Linked DNA regions of Homo sapiens: region 2 is linked to region 1. Evidence: fine-mapped expression QTL. A gene starts in region 1. The other region holds a variant in brackets. All regions are shown on one strand. Distances are from middle to middle.

Region 1 (5,364 bases):
ACACACAGAGTGACCTGGAAGGGAGCTACAAGGATGACTGAAGCCACAAGCCTCTTTATTTCTTAATCGCAGTTGGTGAGGATCTCAGAGCAGCTCAAACTGTCAGCTGGCAGCCCTGGTCACACCTGGGGAAACTGAGTCACAGAGGGGCACAGGAGTGATTCAGCCAGAGACATACTCCGGGCCCTGACAAGTCTCCCCGAAGATGTACCAGATACCAGCCAGCCTGCCTTTCCTCCACATTACCTCTTCCTCCCCACAGCTGAGCCACGCCACCAGCCCAGCCTCCCCAAGCCTCAGGGACGACTGCCAGAGGGAGGACTGGCAAATGCTAGGGTCCAAACACTTACTAACGACAGGGAAACCATAAGGAACAAAAACTTGTGAGGAAAAATGTGCCTCAGGAAGAGAATTTCATAAGAAACTCTCCTTTTCTAAGTACATCTGGCCTGCAGGGACCTTGCTATCCAGCAAGCTTACCCATCCAGAACCAGAGGAAAGACCAGAGCAAAGCGGCCTGAGCAGGCAGAACAAAGTCCAACACTAAGCTTCCCAGACTTGAACCACCAATGTTAACAAGCTTCATCCCAATTTTCCAGCCCACAGAAGAAACAGTGAGTAGTAAGAGGAAAAGGCTGCTAAAAGGGGAGTCGCACAGCAGGAGGAAGTAACAATTATCCCTAAGAGGAAAAGAAGCTGTTCAAGAGCAGTCCCAGGAACATAACACAGAGGCCAGTCTGTGAGCTATTCAAGGCAGGCTGCCTAGTTCTCCAGGCAGCTTGGGGCCAGAGGCCTAACCCTCTTACACAGAGGGCTTGACCTGAGTTGCCTGGCGGGGGGGAAAAATCACAGCCCAGAGAAGACTGTTTAAAGAGGAAGGGAGCCATGTGACCCACTGGGGGGACATTCCCACCCCAATTATTTAAAAGTAATATTTAACATTTAAAAGGTTTTGAAGCTAAAAAGGCCACGCTGCAACTTTGTGGAATACTTAGCTCTGTGGAATTATTTCTTCCCTGTGGGTGCTGGGTGTTGATTTTACGCTAAAAAAAAATTGTCTTTGGAGTCAATGAGCACACAGTATTTGCTCACAAAGAGGCAAAGTAAATTTCTAAACTTTCGGTGTCAAGAAATTGAGGTGTTGCCCACTAGTCTCACCCATCTGTGCTTCTACCCATCAGTATCTCTCTCTTTTCTGCCTGTCCTACTCATCTTGTCTCCAGTAACTTTCATTCCAATTTTCTTTGATAATGATGAGAAATCTTCCACTGAATGCTTACTATACGCCAGGCACTGTCTAAATGTTGAAACACAGCTACTTCATTCACCCTCAAAGCAATCCAAAGAGGTAGGTAAGGCTAAAGGTTCAAGTAGTTAGAGGTTAAGAGACTTGCCCAAGGTAACACAGGTATTAAACAGAGCCACGTGGACCAAAATGCAGGCAACACAAGCCCAGACAGTCTGATTCCAGCCCCTCATTTCCACTTTCTCTCTCCTCTCTGGTGACTGGCTTCCAAAACGCCTGAAGCATTAAATCCTTGTTGGACATCTCTGAGCCCAAAGCTGGAAAACTCTCAGCATCTAGGCCCCCACTTGCCTTGGGAATGACAAGCCCTCACCCTGATCTGCCATCTCAGCTGAACACTTCCTGTCTCCTCAAGGAAACTTAGTATCTACCTTTCTCTTCCTCTCACTTCCCAAACTGCTCAGAAAACGGCGGGGGGGAAGAAAACCCACCTGGGGGTCTCAGAGCCTTGGTCGGCACGTGGAGAGGTAACGTGAATTTCCCCTATATTCAAGAGAAAAGGAAGAAGGTCTGGGAGCTCACCTGAAATGCCAGGCTCACTTTTAGTAACTGCTGGCATCCAGTGCGGCAGGGGCCGAGCGCTCCAGTGCTGGGAGCTGAAAGAACAGTCACCCCTGCCCAGGAAATAACCACTGAGCCAACCATCATGCCCTGATTACCGTCCTCAGGGAAAGCCTACCGGTCCCTCTAAAGCACCCTCGTCCCATTCTCAAACCCCCTGTGGAAATCAGAAGCCAAACCTAGCTTTACAATGTCAGGTCTCTTCGCTAGAGCTCTGGTCACGCCCCTCTTCCTGGAGTACTCCAATCACACTTGGCGCCCAGAAACTGCCGCTGCCGCTGACCTTGGGCAGACTGCGCCCTCCCTCTAGCCTCGGCTCCCCCTCCGCTCAGAGGCCCGGGATGGACGCGTGCGGCCGGTGCCAGCGAGCCTCAGGGAAGGCTGCGCCCAGCCAGCTTCCTGGTGCCGCTCACGTGCGCGGCGGCGGAGGGCCGGGCCCTTAAACGGCCCCCGTCCTGGGCTAAACTTCGGTGCTAGCAGAGGGCGGAAGGACTATGGAGGGTGGGGGGCCGCCGCCTCCCACTTTCGGATTCCAGCCCCTGCTCACCCCGGGCCTTGCCTATTTACTCAGAGCCTTTCTCTTCGCCCACCTCCTCACGGAGCCCCACGCACGTCTGTAACTTAAAGGACGCTAAAGTTTGCAGCCCAGGCTGCGAGGCGCGGCCTTGGGGGACGGGGGCGGAGTTAAAACGCGACTCGCGCCTCTTTCCCTCACCTCCACGGCCCCGGGGCATGCCCTGCACCGGTGGCCGCGGAAGTGGGCTGCCCGGAAGAGTAGGGGCTGCCCCAAGGTCGCATCCAGGCCCTCGGACCTGGCCGAGGCCAGCTGTGGGCAAGACAAGATGCAAAGAGCGGCCCGGGCCGCGGGGGTCACGGAGGGGACACGGAGAGTCCTGAGGTCGCGCCAGGGCGGACAGGGGGAGTCCCAGACCTACGCCCCAGTGGGTATGCCTCTCCTCTGGCCCGGCCCTCACCTCAGCAGCCGCCCGCTGCGGACGCCGATCCGCGCAGGCGGCTCAGGGTTCGGTTACGGAGCCTGCGCGCGCCCGCCGCGCACGCTCGCTCCGCCCCCTCTCGCGGCGGGACATGGCCGTGGCCGTGGGCGCGTGCGCGCGGGACCCGGAGGGCGGAGGCCTGCCCCGCCCCGTCTCCATGGCAACGGGCGTGTGCCTAGCCCCAGCGCTGGCTGCGGCGGAACCCACGGCGTACCTTCCCGCCTCCAACAAACTATCCGGTTGCTGAGGTTGATTTAGCAACACCCCAGGGCATCTGGGTTGGCAGGAGCACCACAGTGACAGCCTGGCCCAGGCTCGGGTACGGGAGGCAGCCCAGTGGCCCGCAGTAGAGGGCCAGGCTGGGGACCAGGGAGCTGGGGCTGAGGAGAATTTGTACAGCCTAGGGAGGCGCAGCACAGCAGTATCAGCCTCTGGCATTTGTACCACCTTTAGTCCTGCCACTTTCTCTCACTGTGGCTTCGCAACAGACTTGGGAACCAAGAAAGGCATAGGTGAGGAAGCTGAAGCCCAGTCTGGGCTCGCGGAAGAAACTGGTGGATCCAACTTCTGCATAGCGCAAATATCTGCTTCCTGCCTCCACCCACCCATTCCCACTTCCGTGAGTATATTCATCCATCCAACACTTATTATTACTCCTTGCCAGGACAGTTCTAGGGGCTGGGGATAGAGTGAACAAAACCAAGGTTCTGCCCTCCTGGAGTTCACGTTCCATGGGAATGCCCTTCTTCCAGGCTCCTCCCTCAGTGCCCAGGTTGTGGCTGTGGGAGGCTGGTCTACCTTTGTGGTTTAGCGGTAACTTACGTGATTCCCACGTCAAGTGTAAGCTCCTTGATGATTGGTTCAATCTTCACCTCAAATTTCTGAGGACCTACAAACTACAAAGCACTCTTCTAGGGGCCCAAAGATAAAACGCTCCCCTCGTGAAAATCCCGGACTTTTGGTGGGAGGTGGGGAAGGTGACAACTATGCTCATAAGCTTGGCTACAAGACCGGCGAGGCCAAGAGCTACTTTGGTATCCTGACAAGGACTGATGTTTGGGAGGGGGATCCAGCAGATGGGAACACCACGAAGGTGGTGGTGGGAAAAGTCAGCAGTCACAGGGTGGTTCACCTTGTGGATCCCACTACTGCACCAGCAAAGAGCAGGCTGGGCACACAGAGACAGTCAAAATCCCAGCTTCCTTTCCCTCTGCTTCACATTCTTCCTTCCGCAGGCAGGGGAGTTTGAACCTTATCCACAGGGCCAAGCCTGTCCCAGCCCTCTAGGCAAACTGGCAGAACAGGCAGCTGGCCCCTCACAGGCACTCCGGGCTGGGCCAGTGCAGGTCGCAGCAGTTGTTTTACCTATGAACATCAAGCACATGGTCAAACCCTCAGCTTAGGTGCCCCAGGCAGGCGGGCTACACACTTGGTAGCATTTCCTTTGACACAAGGAGCAGCCATGGCCCGGGCTCAGAGACTGACAGCCTCTGCCTGCAGGGTCTGCGTGGTCATTTCTCCTGCTTCTCAGAAGGTGGTGAGCTTTTCCCAGGAAACCATTATAAGGAAGTGCCCATTCTTTATCTTGTTCTCTCTGCTCACTTCCCTTAGCCTGATTGGGGAACTCTAGAGCCCCACATCAGAGTTCAACATGTGCCTCAGGAGCTTCAGCACCTCTTTTGTGGGAGGAGAGTCCGCTGGTGACTGGGGCTGCAGGCCATGACATCAGCCTGCCCAGCTTCACCTCAGGCTGCTTCCAACAGTGCCAAGTGAGGTCCCTTGGCAGGATCCCTGCAAGGCAGCGGCTGGCCACCAGGAGGCAGCAGCCTACTCTACAAGGCACTTTCTTCATTCCAACCCCTTGTAACAGGTCTGAGGAAACCTGTTCGCCCAGCCATGTGCTGCAACCATCCTCCACTCCCAATCTTATCTCCCAATAGCACAGATTCCCCTATCATGAGTCCAGACTTGGCCTTCATCTCCTCTTGCCTTCCTCTGTCCAAGGAATCACTACAGAGATTCTTTCTCTATCCTTCTTTGTAAATTTCCAGAAAATTGTTTCCCCAGGGCCCCTCCCCTTGAAGAAATTAAACAGGAAGCTGGAGTAGACTGTCCCTTCTTTCCCCCACCTCTCACACTCCAAAGCTCTGTTTAACTCTGTGGGCCAGTGGCTAGATTCCCCAACATGGATGACAGAGAATACACATGCAATAAGAATGTTTTCGCTGCCACCAGCCACTCACAGACACACTGTCTCCCACCCTCTGAAGGCATTGTGCCCAATCCCCAGCCACTCACTGTCTAGTCAGGGCTGCCCCTGCAGGACTTGCCTTGGCTGAGGACCAGCTAGCTTCAAGCCACTCTGAAGTCAGCTTGCTGTTTCCCCTGGAGCCTGGTAATACATCCTTCTTCAGGTGAACAAAAGCAGAAAAAGCCCAGTGAACCCCACTGCAACAAAGAGCCTGCCATCAGTCTTCCTTCTGTTCCTGCCTATCTCATCAC
Region 2 (5,364 bases), 31 kb before region 1:
ACACTCACACAGGCACACAGCCATCCACACAGACTCAGCCATGCTCAGGTACAATCATACCCTGATGCTCACCTGGGCACAGCTTTACCCAAGCAGCCCCATCCATCCGTGGTTACACAGAGCCAAATGCATGAGCGTGGGTGCACATGCACACACACAGGTACACAGCCACTGGCAGGCACAGTGGGGGAGCCTCGCCTACTGGGGAAGTACCAGCGTGCAGGCACACTAGTCACAGACACAAAGGCATCCCTTGGAGGCAGATGAAGACAGGCTGTGAGCTCCCCATTCCTGAGCCCTGAAGGGCACCCCATACTCAGCTCTCACCCAAGCCAGGCTCTGCTTGCTCTCTGGCAGCTGCAATGGAGGGGCAGCTGGCCACTGGGGTCACAGAGCAGGACGTGGAGGATCTCTAACTCCCCTCCTCCCCCAACCCCAGGGTACCTGCCATGTTCCTTCCATTCTTTGTCCTGGGGAGGGGAGGCTCCTTCCCACTCCCAGCCTATCTGTACAGCCATCCCCCCACCGCCCCCAACCAAGGCAGAACAAACAAATACACAACCCAAATCCAGGTGAAACAAGTAAATCATTGGCTTTATTCTGGGTCCTGGAAGCTCCACTGTGAGTCTGAAAAAAAGACACAACAGGGGTGGCAGCCCTGGGGGCTGGTGCAGAAAATAGTCCCTGGCTCCTCTGGCCCTGGGAGCCTAAAGGGCAGTGAGGAGAAGGCTTAGCAAGAGGCCTGGAGCAGGGGAAGTCAGGTCCCTCAGGAACCCCTCCTCCCCCAGAGGAAGGAGGAAGAGGGCTGGAGAGTCTGCTGGAGAGTCTGCTCAGTTCCTCAGCAACTGCACTGCAGGAGGGTGCAGGCCATGGGTTACTCCTTGCCCTTCTCAGGGGCAGTGGGCTCCCAGAGCCACTTGGTAGTCCCCAGGGGCTCAGTCCCAGGGTCCAGCCGTGACTCCCCTAAGGGCCCCTCGCCCTCCAAGTCCAGCTCCTCAAAAGAGGAGCCGCTGGCACCTGACTCGCTGTAGCTGTGCTCGCTGCGGGTGTCACCGTCATCCCAGCCACGGCTGCTCGCCCCAGGTGACAGTGTGGCAGCTGAAGTCTCCCGGCTGCCAGGGCTCACTTCCAAGCTTACAGAACTCGTGTCACTCATTGTGTCAGCTCCTATGACCAGGAAAAGGGAGCACAGGTTAGCTAGGACCACCCCACCCCCTCCTCCAGGGAGAGGCAACTCAGCACGCAGTGCACTCATGAATAATGCAGCCTCCCGGGCTCAGGGGGCTTGCTCCAGCTGCCCTCTGCCCTCTACCCTGACTGGGGCTGCACAGACAGGGCAGAGGGAAAGAGCTGGGAGGAAGGGAGGGAGGGAAGGAGGGAGGGAGGGAGAGAGGGTGGGAGGAGGCAGCTGTGCACTCTTCTCCCCACTCTAAATTAGCCTCAGCTCCCTGCACTTCCACAAAGCCTGCTGCCCTCCCCCCACATTTATTAAGGGCCACTCAGCCCTGAGGTGAGGAGCTGAGGTAGAACAAAGAGACACAAGTAGTGTCCTCTCCACCTTCCCCCACCCCCACTTCAAGCTTGGAAAGAGATGTGTCCAGGGCCAGCTACAGAACATCACCCACAGGGCACGAGGACTGCAGAATGCAGCAGGAGGCCCCTCTGCAGCCCTCCCCCGTGCAGGGCTCCCAGGAGCAGCATCCAGGGAGTCAGCAGGCCCCTGCCTCTGGTACACACCAAGTCCCAGTTGAGGAGGGAGCTGAAGTACGAGGAGGATGGAGAAGGCCTGAGAAATACTCAACCAGCTGCAAGGAGGAGGGTGCTGGGATGAAACATGTTAAGGGTTTTCTCTCCCTATGCCTGGGTCGACCCTGAGAAACCCTTACCCACCCCACCCCCAATGACTGGTGCTTCCTGAGCCACAAGATAGCAAAAGGGGATGATGAGAGCACTCTGCTGGTGGTTGGGGTGCCCCAAACCAGTGCTGAGCCAGGTTGATGGCCCAAACTCCTTCTAACCTGCTCCTTCCACCCCCAATACATCCTCCAAGCAAGCAGCCCCTTCATCTGCCCTGTCCAGGAGCAACCCCTGGGTTCATCTCCCTGGATCAGAGGCACTGAATGCAGGCTGGGGTGGCAAGGAGGAACACATGGCTCAGGCTCGCTGTGTGCAGGAATCCAGACTGGGAGAAAGTGGATCTGCTACCCTTCCTGTATGATGGGGAGAGGGTCAGCTGTCAAACATCACAGAAGGTGAGGGGTTAGCCAGCTTCCCCAGCCACTGTCTCCATGGTGTTGGAGCCAAGCCAGGTGCAGCTGGGGTCTGCTTGGCGCCTGGACTCAGCCTGGGGCTTTCCTTGAGCCTCAAATGGGGCCTAGGTTGGGGGTGGGAGAATTAGGAGAGGGGGGAATTTGGGGTCTCTCCCTACCCCCACCACCCACTCAGCCCCCAGAATATGCCCTCTGGGCGCTACTGGCAGAGGTGAGGTGAGCCCTAGAAGCCCAGGCTGCTGGCCCAGGGCCCTCCTCTTGCTGAGGCCCCAGGTGTGGCTCCCAGGACAGA[A/G]GCCTGTGAATGAGGTGGTCAGGGAGCTGGGGGAGCTTTAAGTTTTGGGTAGTTTCTTCTGACCAGGGGACAGGATGCCAGGCCCTCACTGCTCCTTAAATAATGATCAGTGCCCCAGGGACCGCAGGCCTGAAAAGAGCAAAGGAGGGAGACAGTTTCTCCCTGGCCCTATTAAACTGTATGTTCTGTCTGCCCACCCACCCAATGGCTCTCTTGGGACCCCAGGTATAGGAATGTGCCTGCTTCCCAGCATGCTACCTCCTACCACCCAGCTCCTAGGCTAGGAATGTTCAGAGGAAGGAGCCTAGGGGTGCCTCCTTCAGGCCAGGACAGCCTGCTGAAATGAAGACAGCCCCTGGAGACATATATACACTTCAAGCAAAGGAATTCAGCTGGAGGCCAGGCACGGTGGCTCACGCCTGTAATCCCAGCACTTTGGGAAGCTGAGGCAGGTGGATCACATGAGGTCAGGAGTTCCAGACCAGCCTGGCCAACATGGCAAAACCCCATCTCTACTAAAAATACAAAAATTAGCCGGGCATGGTGGCAGGCACCTGTAATCCCAGCTACTCAGGAAGCTGAGGCAGGAGAATCGCTTGAACCCACGAGGTGGAGGTTGCAGTGAGCCAAGATCATGCCATTTCACTCCAGCCTGGGCAAAAAAGGAAAACTGTCTTTAAAAACAAACAAACAAAAAAAAGGAATCCAGCTGGGCATGGTGGCTCATCCCTAGAATCCCAACACTTTGGGAGGCTGAGGCAGGATCACTTGAGCTAACAAGTTCAAGGCCAGCCTGGGCAATATGGCGAAACACCATCTCTATAAAAAATACAAAAACTAGCCAAGCATGGTGGTACACGCCTCTTGTCACAGCTACTCAGGAGGCTGAGGTGGGAGGACAGCTTAAGCCTGGGAGGGAAAGGTTACAGTGAGCCGAGATCTTGCCACTGCACCACTCCAGCCTGGGCGATAGAGCCAGACCTTGCCGCAGAAGAAAAAAAAAAAAGGAATGCAATACGGGGAAGTAGCATCCCTATACCCCCACCAAGATCTACACAGGAGGAGGTCCCAGAGTCCCATGCCTGCATCCCTGGGCAGAAGATACCAGGCAAGGCAGGGCCCTACCTAAATCCCCACGACTACTGGGGCAGGGGACTTGAAGCCCACCCCCTTCACCCAAATCCCTCCCTCTCGCTCTGCCCACAGCCAGTGCAAGACGATCAAATATTCATCGCCTCTCTGAAGCTAAATAATACATCAATGTAATAACAGGCACAAGGCAGCTAATCACCCCCTTTCACCTCCCGGCCTAAGCTAGGGCCACAGCAGGGAGGCGGGCAGGGACAGGCCAAGCCTTGGGCAGTCAGACATCCTGCATGCACCCACCACCAACTGCTGTGTCAGTGGCATGCACCTGGTGGGCAAACACCGAGTCCCGCTGGGGTGTCAGGACAGGCCCTGTGAGAGGTGGGCAGACCCCTTGGCCCCAACACCAGGGAGTGGGTGGGCGGGCTGGAGGGGAGGAAAACAGGCTGAGGAGCTGGGGAATGTGGGAGCTGCCACTACAGCCAGCTGTAGTGGGTGCCAAGCAGTCCTTCAATGACCCTGACAGGCAGTGTTTGGGAGGGAAGGAAGCTGGGTGGGTGGGTCAAGGAGGGGGAGGCAGGCAGCAGAGGGAGGTCACAGTAAAGTGAAGGCACTCTGTCTTCCTGCCCTGGAGGCTGCCTGGGCCTGCTGACCTTGTGCCATGTCCTGTGCCCACAGTAGGGGCACTGAAGAGTGTCTGCCGGGCACTACCAGGCAGAAGGGAGCTGTACCCCATGGAGGTAATTAAGTGGCAGATGAAGTTAACTGTGTTGGACACAGGCCCCTAGGGAGTAGAGACTGCTCCCAATACCCTCCTACCCAGCCCTAGCTGACACGTCTCCCTAGGGTGACCTTGGCTGTTGAAGACTGGATGGGCAGAGCATCTGCTAAAGAAGGAGGAGAGGAGGGACAGTTCCTCTCCCCACAGCCCTGTACCACTCCTAGAAGTCACAAACTCCACCAGGTTGGCCAAGGATAAGGCCCCCTGGGACCATCTGGGATGTAACCCAGCAGACCCCCTTGTGCCTGAGACAGCCCGGGGTCACAGATCATTGCAGAGGGGTGGGCAGGCAAGCAGCCTTCCAGCCTGGACCTGGGGCCTTGAGGCTGCCAGCAGGAGTGTGGGCTGGCCCTGGAGAAAGGCACAGGTGACTGATCTCCTGGCTCCCCTCTGCATGCTCCCTGGTTGTTCCCTGGCAGGGAGAAAGCAGCTGGCTCTGGGTGGGGCCCGTACTGAGGGACAAGAGAACACTTTGCTCCCCTCCTTACCTTCCAGATCTATGCCAATCTTACTTCCTGCTGAGCCCCACCCAAGGGACTCCTTTCCTGAGCAGCCTCAGCCCCCTCCCATGAACATCGAGCTGTCTGTGATCTTTGTTTCCAAGGGTACTCCTGCTGCATCTGGAGGGAATCCAGGCAGGGTCTTTGTATCTGTGTTGCCAGGAGGTAATGTGTGTGAATCCACATCTATGTAGATCCATGTGTCTGGGAACAGGCAACTCCACATGTGGGTCCTCAGGTAGGTGGGTCTCCTTCCTCCCTCTGCCAAGCATAGCCTGACACCCACAGTGCCAACCCAGAGAGGGAGGAGCCTCCTCAACCAAGCCCCTGGAGTCCAGAAGAGAGGAGCTCCAGGAGGGCCCCATCCTCATACCCCACCTTCTGTACCTGTGCCATCCACCTGGGTGTCAATGGCCTCCACAAGCCCCCGCCATT

The links. PIP is the estimated chance that this variant, and not a neighbour inherited with it, causes the effect. A credible set is the group of variants that fine-mapping cannot tell apart.
Region 2: its variant is the best candidate, but not a certain one, in a credible set for the expression of TEX264 in tibial artery (GTEx, PIP 0.65).

What each region holds. Positions count from the first base shown.
Region 1 is chr3:51,668,766-51,674,129 of GRCh38, reverse strand. TEX264 (testis expressed 264, ER-phagy receptor) reads right to left here and starts at 2,878. Exons shown (of 5, transcript NM_015926.6): 1 at 2,842-2,878. LOC124906237 (a long non-coding RNA gene) reads left to right here and starts at 3,025. Exons shown (of 2, transcript XR_007095907.1): 1 at 3,025-3,481; 2 at 4,474-5,364. RefSeq lists a silencer at 2,713-3,142.
Region 2 is chr3:51,699,527-51,704,890 of GRCh38, reverse strand. It overlaps TEX264 (testis expressed 264, ER-phagy receptor), which reads right to left. Exons shown (of 5, transcript NM_015926.6): 4 at 5,317-5,364; 5 at 568-1,167. The coding sequence ends at 875. Among named protein-coding and RNA genes, the nearest start is that of GRM2, 4.9 kb to the left of the region's middle. RefSeq lists an enhancer at 83-951. The variant A/G (reference allele first, on the strand shown) is at 2,563.